Homo sapiens: one gene and its partner. The protein of the gene in region 2 interacts with the protein of the main gene of each other region in a biochemical or structural test. Each region holds a gene or a part of one and is shown on either strand. Other genes may lie near its edges.

The links. The genes of interacting proteins can lie anywhere in the genome.
Region 1: of the proteins of FAM20C (region 2) and IRF3, one has a biochemical effect on the other in vitro, tested with the Homo sapiens proteins (one large-scale study listed by IntAct).

The regions. Positions count from the first base shown.
Region 1 is NC_000019.10:49,659,221-49,662,969, forward strand, and holds the end of IRF3 (interferon regulatory factor 3), read right to left. Parts: intron 3,398-3,749; coding exon 3,205-3,397; intron 3,109-3,204; coding exon 2,728-3,108; exon of another isoform or gene 2,230-2,727; intron 1,625-2,229; coding exon of another isoform or gene 1,609-1,624; coding exon 1,493-1,608; intron 614-1,492; coding exon 428-613; coding exon of another isoform or gene 369-427; 3' UTR 352-368; downstream 1-351.
Region 2 is NC_000007.14:199,101-202,656, forward strand, and holds part of FAM20C (extracellular serine/threonine protein kinase FAM20C precursor), read left to right. Parts: exon of another isoform or gene 1-1,583; intron 1,584-3,556. UniProt on the Homo sapiens protein: Golgi serine/threonine protein kinase that phosphorylates secretory pathway proteins within Ser-x-Glu/pSer motifs and plays a key role in biomineralization of bones and teeth.

The DNA.
Region 1 (3,749 bases), on a different chromosome or scaffold from region 2:
TCCAGCCCCACGTGGAGGGGAGCCTGAGGCCTGGAAGGAGAAGGACCACTTGCCCAAACTGTTCATAGGCAAGGCAGGGGGCCTGGGTTCTGGCTAGTCTTTGTGTTTCCTACTCTGTGACCTTTGCGCCTCTCCCAGCCTGTGTCTTGGTCTACAACACGGGGACAGCCATCACCCACCAGGTCCCTGGGCAGAAGTGAGGAGGTGTCAGCTGCCCCCTGCAGTGCTTGGTCTTCATGCATTGAGCACCTGAGTTGTATATAGCTGCACAGATGGGTAAACTGAGACCCTGAGCGGGAATAACAACCATATTGGGTCAGAGGGCACCCAACACCAGACACGCACAAGTGATCATAGCAGGAACCAGTTTATTGGTTGAGGTGGTGGGGAACAGGGGGGTTGGAGGCACACCATGAGGAGCGAGGGCTCAGCTCTCCCCAGGGCCCTGGAAATCCATGCCCTCCACCAAGTCCTGCAGGTAGGCCTTGTACTGGTCGGAGGTGAGGGAGAGTGGGTGGCTGTTGGAAATGTGCAGGTCCACAGTATTCTCCAGGGAGGAGGCACCCCCTACCCGGGCCATTTCTACCAAGGCCCTGAGGCACGTGGGCACAACCTGCAGGGGAAGTGGGGACAGGAGTCAGGGAAAACACCCAGCCACTGTCCACCAAGGTAGGAGTCAGGGCTTGGAGGACTACAACTCCCTGCAGCCCCTGCTGTAACCTAGGATGAACCATAGGCCTAGGGCTGCTGGGAGTTGTAGTTTTACACACACACACACACACACACACACACACACACACACACACACCCCCTGCTGTAACTGAACCATAGGCCTAGGGCTGCTGGGAGTTGTAGTTTTACACACACACACAAACACACACACACACACACGTCAGGGCTGAGCAGTCTGTGATCTTGACTCCTGGGAGCCACAGCCATGGCCTCACAATGGCAGCTAAAACTTGAGTCCACCAGCTTCTACATGGTTTAGAGCAGGGGTCCCCAACCCCCCTACGGCTTGTTAGGGACCAGGTTGCACAGCAGGATGTGAGCAGCGGGTGGGGGAATATTACTGCCTGAGCTCTGCCTTCTGTGAGATCAGCGGCAGCATTAGATTCTCAGAGGAGCACAAACTCTATCGAACTGCGCACGTGAGGGATCGGCTGCTCCTTAAGAGAATCTAATGCCTGATGATCTGCAGTGGAGCAGTTTCATCCCGAAACCACACCTCCCTGTCCGTGGAAATATTATCTTCCATGAGACTGGTCCCTGGTGCCAAATAGTTTGGGGGCCACTGGTTTAGAGAGTTCAAAACAGGTTCTGCAGGTGAGGCCATGGGAAGGAGCTCCCGGGGATGAAAAACTGGTTATTGCAGAGATCTTGGAAGTTGCAGTTTTTTAGAGGGCCCTCTGGGAGTTGGAGTTCCTGGGAGCAACCTCTTCCCTCTGTAAGGCCACCCCTTTCAGCCCCAGGGACTCAGGTCTGCAGGCACCTTGACCATCACGAGCCTCTTGGTCCACGGCTGGTCCTGGGGCCATGACTCCCCCACACAGAACCAGAGGGCATAGCGTGGTGAGCGTCCGCTTCCTTCCGTGAAGGTAATCAGATCTGGGGGCCCAGGAGCCTAGTCAGGGATGAGAAGAGGACCCTCTACCCACCCTTCCCCGTAAACTTGAATGATAACCCCCACCACCTCCCCTGACCTAAGGCCCTCTGCTGCCTCGACCAGGGGACTGCTTGTTTGGGGAAAGTCCCCTCCTTCCCTCCCTCCCTCCCTCCCATCAGGGTGGGGTTGTTGGAAGGCCACACCCCCAAGCCCCCAAGCCTCAGCATTCATAACAGGCCCAGAGTAGGGGGCCCATGCTCCCAAGGATGCTCAGTGAATCTGGAGAAGCTGGTTGGCATTCAGTCCTGTCTGAGGCTGCATTGTCCAATTGCAGCCATTAGTCATGTAAGGTTATTTCAGTTTAAATTGTAACCAATTAAAACGAATCACGTCCTGGTTGCACTCGCCTCACCTGAGTGCTTGGCCCCTGTGGCTAGTGGCTGCTGCACCGGACAGTGCAGGTGACTGTCATTTCCATCATGGCAGAAAGTGCCACTGCACAGCGAAACCCTAAGGGATGTAGCTTTCCTGCTATTGGTCTGTTCACCATCATTAGTTACGATGATGATGACAGTGGCAGCTAATTCCCTGAGCAGGCTCTGTGTACTGGGCCTGTGTCTCACCCCAGCGCTGGCAGGCAGGTAGAGAGAGGAGACCATCCTTGGATTCCACGGGCTCAGGGCAAAGTCCTTTGCCTCGGTTATACAGCGGGCCAAGGGCAGCCAGCGTCTGAATTCAGTCCTAATCATGAGTTCTTTTTTTTTTGTTGTTCGAGATGGAGTCTTACTCTGTCACCAGGCTAGAGTGCAGTGGTGCGATCTCAGCTCACTGCAATCTCCGCCTCCTGGGTTCAAGCAATTCTCCTGCCTCAGCCTCCCGAGTAGCTGGGATTACAGGCACGTGCCACCACGCCCGACTATTTTTTTGTATCTTTAGTAGAGATGGGGTTTCACTATGTTGACCAGGCTGGTCTCGAACTCCTGAACTTGTCATCTGCCCACCTCAGCCTCCCAAAGTGCTGGGACTACAGGCGTGAGCCACCGTGCCCGGCCAATCCTGAGTTGTTAACCACTGTGCAGGCTGCTTTGTACTGGCCAGGTCGAAGCCCCTGTCTCACTCACCTACAATGAAGGGCCCCAGGTCAAACACGCCTCCTTCCTTGTCCTTGGGGACCTCGCCATCAGGCCCATGCCCGCTGTTGGGGAGCAGCTCCTCGCTCACTGCCCAGTATGTGTGGCAGTGCCCCAGCCGCTGGGCCCAGAGCCACTGCCCGGCCCGCCAGAGAGCCAGTCCCCCACCCAGGCAGCTCAGCACATGCCTCACGTAGCTCATCACTCCCCTGTCTGTCAGGGACATGCCAGGGTCTGGCAGTGTGACTGGCCATCCAGGCAGCGTCCTGTCTCCCACTTCGGACCCCACCAGCCGCAGGCCCTCCGGGCAGGAGATGGTCTGCTGGAAGACTTGGCGGCCCCGGTAGAAGGCTGTCACCTCGAACTCCCACTCTGAGCAGCGGCAGCAGCGGCATGAAGGGGAGAGGGGTTGAGAATCAGGGGCTGCCGCCCAGACCTCAGCCCTCCCAGCCTGCAGCTGACACTCACCTTCCCCCGGCACCAACAGCCGCTTCAGTGGGTTCTCAGAGGGCCCCAGGTTTGGGAAGGGAGTGGGATTGTCCAAGCTGGGGCTCCGCAGGGGCTGAGGGCAGGGCTCAGGGGCTACAGCCAGGCTTGGGGGTCCCGGATCTGGGAGTGGGGCCAACACCATGTTACCCAGTAACTCATCCAGAATGTCTTCCTGGAGGGAAACAAAAAAAGAGAATCAGGCATTTCCATATCCTTTTCTGGAGACTTCATATGGACCAGGTCTGTTCTCAGCAACGCAGGGAGGTCAGGCTTGAGCTCTGCCTTCAAGGGGCTTCCAGCCTGGGGACAGAGCCAGCCATGGCATCAACAGCCAAACAAACACTAATGAACGCCAGGTGCTACCATTCCAACCCAAGGATCTGGCTCTATGCAGGTAAGACCTGGGCAAAGCAGGCTGGGTAGAATTTCAGAGGGGATGCTCCCCCAGCTTGGGCCTCAGCAGGATCAAGGTGAGGGAGTTTTTCAGTTCCCAAGAGGCTGACAGCCCCCTGCGAATCGAAATC
Region 2 (3,556 bases):
ATGTGATCTGTCCTAGAAGGGGGCTGACCTGCTTGCTGACCCCGCTTGCTGCTGCCTGGCTGGCCTGACTCAGCCACGGCTGTTCCGAGGGCCCTTCTGAGTACGAACTTCCAGTTGGAGGATCTGGGTGAAGACCCAGCTGCTTGAGATAGCAGCCTCTGGCTAGGCCCTTGGCGTGGCCAAGCCAATCAGGCAGGTTTAGAGCCTGGTGCCCCTAGACAGGTCCTGCAACCAAGAACAGGGGTAGCCTTCAAAGGCCAGCCCTGCCTTCCAACCACCGCTCCACAGCGAGGGAAACCAAGGCTCTTAGGGCAGGAGGCTTGTCCGAGATTAGCACCTGCGTGCTCCAGGCTCTGAGTTCTGTCCCCTCAGCTGTCCGGCCCCTGGGTGCTCACTTTAATCTCAAGTCATTCATCTTACTATTAAACGTGAGCCCAGAAATATTGTTGTAATGGAGAACGATGCCTGCGAGTCTCCAAAGCCTTCCCTCGGAACGGTTCCATTAAATCTCTCCTGCTCAGAACCACCCAATCCAATTCATGGAGCGCCACGTGGTCTACAGCACAGCTGGTTAGGGCCAGCGGAGGTTTATTTATAGCTGGGCTCCTGGCTGCCTGGTAACCGGCCATTGCCACCTTTAAAGAGTCTTGGGATATTATCTACCTCTATTCAGCTTGAAATCGGGCATGCAGTGCCTTGGGCTGGGGCTGGCGATAATTAAATTTCTATCATGCACAATTATGGATGCAAAGAATGAATGACATCCCACTGGCATGTGAGGATTCGGGCAGCTTCTGGACTGAAATACAGACTTCATAATTGCTCCATCCAGATTGGGACAAAGACTGTGGTTGGGAGAACATGCCTGAACAAAGAAAAATGACTCTGCAGGACCAAAGTTCTTGACACTGATTGATCTGCCAAAAGGGGAAGAATGAGTCCAGCTAGAATCCAGGACTAACCAGCGGGTGAGCTTCAAGGAACAAAGGGCTTCCGCTGGGTCAGCCCACGAGAGGGAGCTGCCTGCAGGTACCTGGGAGGGCACAGCCACCGTGTCTGTTCCTTGGGAGCAGGGCTCCTTGGAAGGCAGCGCCAGCTCCAGAAAGGCCACTGTTCCCCCTCCCACCCACCCCAGGTGGCAACTGCCCCTGCAGGTCACGGTCCCAGGGCCTCGCTCGGCCGGCCTAGAGAGAGAAAAGGGAAGATGCCCAATTAGCTGGACGCCCATGGCCCCAGGGCTGGGGGACCTTGGGTTATCCTGAAAGAAGGACAATGACCACCTGCAAAGGACGATTTCAAGTGGAGCCTGGAGGAGGCGGCAAATAGCTCAGTCCGCACTCAACTCCCTTCCCAGCCGTCTGGTGGAAGGTGAGGAGCAAAAGCTCATGCTGCTGAGGCCTGGGGCCACCCAGGCACCGGCCTCCCCGTGCTGAGCAGAGACAGCAGCCCCCTAGCTGCAGGAGTGTGCCCCGATGCGCACCTGCCGACTTTCCTTCTGATGCAGACATGGTCCCCACTGGGGCAAGGCTGCAGTTTTCTTTTAAAAAACAGATCTTTCAAAATAAAAGGGGCCTTGAAGAAAATCGTGGAATAAATAACAGTCTGGGGTGGAGGCGGTTCTGGCGAAAGTGTCCTGAGGGTGGTGTGTGATGGACGGGACTTTGGGCAGTGCTGATGGGGCCTTGCCTGTCACTTGAGGCCTCCAGGAGAGTCGAGGACTGGCAGATCCAGGTCCAGAGCAGGTGCAGGCTCCCAGCTCTTCCAGCCCCTTACCTCGCAGTAGGTTCCCACAGTTCTAGCCTCCTTGATGCCAGCCCCAGGGTGCCCACTGCTGGCCAACTATGTCCTTTTCCTCAAAACCAGGTCCCTCGGTGCCCAGGGTGAATGGGTATATGAGCCTGGGTGTGGGCACCCGGGGTCTGGGACACCGAGCAGACCTCTCTGGCTTGGAGATGTGTGCGGTGGGAAGAACAGGGTGACCTGAGCTCTCCCGGTGTCACATTCTCCACATCTGAGCCCTCTTTGGGTGAGGCCCTACTTCCAGCACACACAGCTGTCCCCATTCGTCTTCAGGAATAACTGACCCTTGAGGCCAGACAGTGGCTGTGAAGAGCAGGGGGACCGCCTGACCGTGACCCCCAAGGACAGACGCTGGCCCTCTTGACGGACGAGATGACCAGGGCCAAAGGCGGCAACATGGGGGCCCACGCTGACGGCAGCATCTCACACCTGGATGTGTTTCTGTGGTCCACAGGTCTGTAGGAGGTGGAACTGGTTAATTTAAAGTCAGGTTGGGGTTGTTGTTAGAAAGGGTTCCTGCTCCCACGAGAAACCAAGGATGAGTGGTGGCTGCACCCAGTCTCCATCCCCATGAGCACCCTGCGGGGTGTTGGGACCCCCAGGCCCGGGCCACACACCTCTCTCTTTCAGGGCCGTCTCTCCCTGTCTCTCCAGACCTGCTCTGGGTTCTTCCTTCTAGAGCTTCCCAGTGGGTTGCCGGAGCTGTCTGGGGTTATGTGGCTTGCCTAAGGCCACACCGATTGGGGCCTGGCACCAAAGTCCATTAGTATTTCTGTGACAGCAGCCATCTTTCTATGTAAGACGCTTATTTCATAAGAAATGCCAGCATCTCTTGGAGTCCTTCTGAGGAGGCAACTGCATACGAACATCGCCTCTGTCTCGTGCTGTGACCCGGGGAGAGACTGTGGGCAAAACCCAGTGGCGTCCGAGGGTCTGTGTGGCCCCGAACTCTTAGTGCTGACAGCAACATGAAATAATGAAGGCACAGGGCACTCTGTTCGTGCATGTTAACTTGTGTAACTAGTGCACGTTAATCACATTAACTAGCCATGTTAACTAGTGACGTAGATTAATAATGATGAATCAATAGGAATGAGTCCTGTATACTGACGGATATCCGGGCGATAGGATTCTTCAGCGAGGCCGGGGAAGAAGCAGACTGTCACCTTTGGTCTAAAGTTGGTGGGTTAAGTGGTGGGAGGTGCTCAGGGCAGGTGGCAGGAAGGGGAGAGCGTTCCAGATGGGGAGAACCTATTTGAAAGGCAGTGGACATCTTCCCATGTGCATAGAGAGGACGGGTGGCCACTGGGCGAGATTGCACTGGGGAATGGGGCTTGTGGACATCTTCCCGTGTGCATAGAGAGGACAGGTGGCTGCTGGGTGGGATTGTACTGGGGAATGGGGGGGCCCTATGGATATCTTCCAGTGTGCATAGAGAGAATGGGTGACTGCTGGGTGAGATTGCACTGGGGAATGGGGCCCGTGGACATCTTCCTGTGTGCATAGAGAGGACGGGTGACTGCTGGGTGGGATTGTACTGGGGAATGGGGGGGCGCTATGGATATCTTCCCATGTGCATAGAGAGAATGGGTGGCTGCTGGGTGAGATTGCACTGGGGAATGGGGCTTGTGGACATCTTCCCGTGTGCATAGAGAGGACGGGTAGCTGCTGGGTGGGATTGTACTGGGGAATGGGGGGGCCCTATGGATATCTTCCAGTGTGCATAGAGAGAATGGGTGGCTGCTGGGTGAGATTG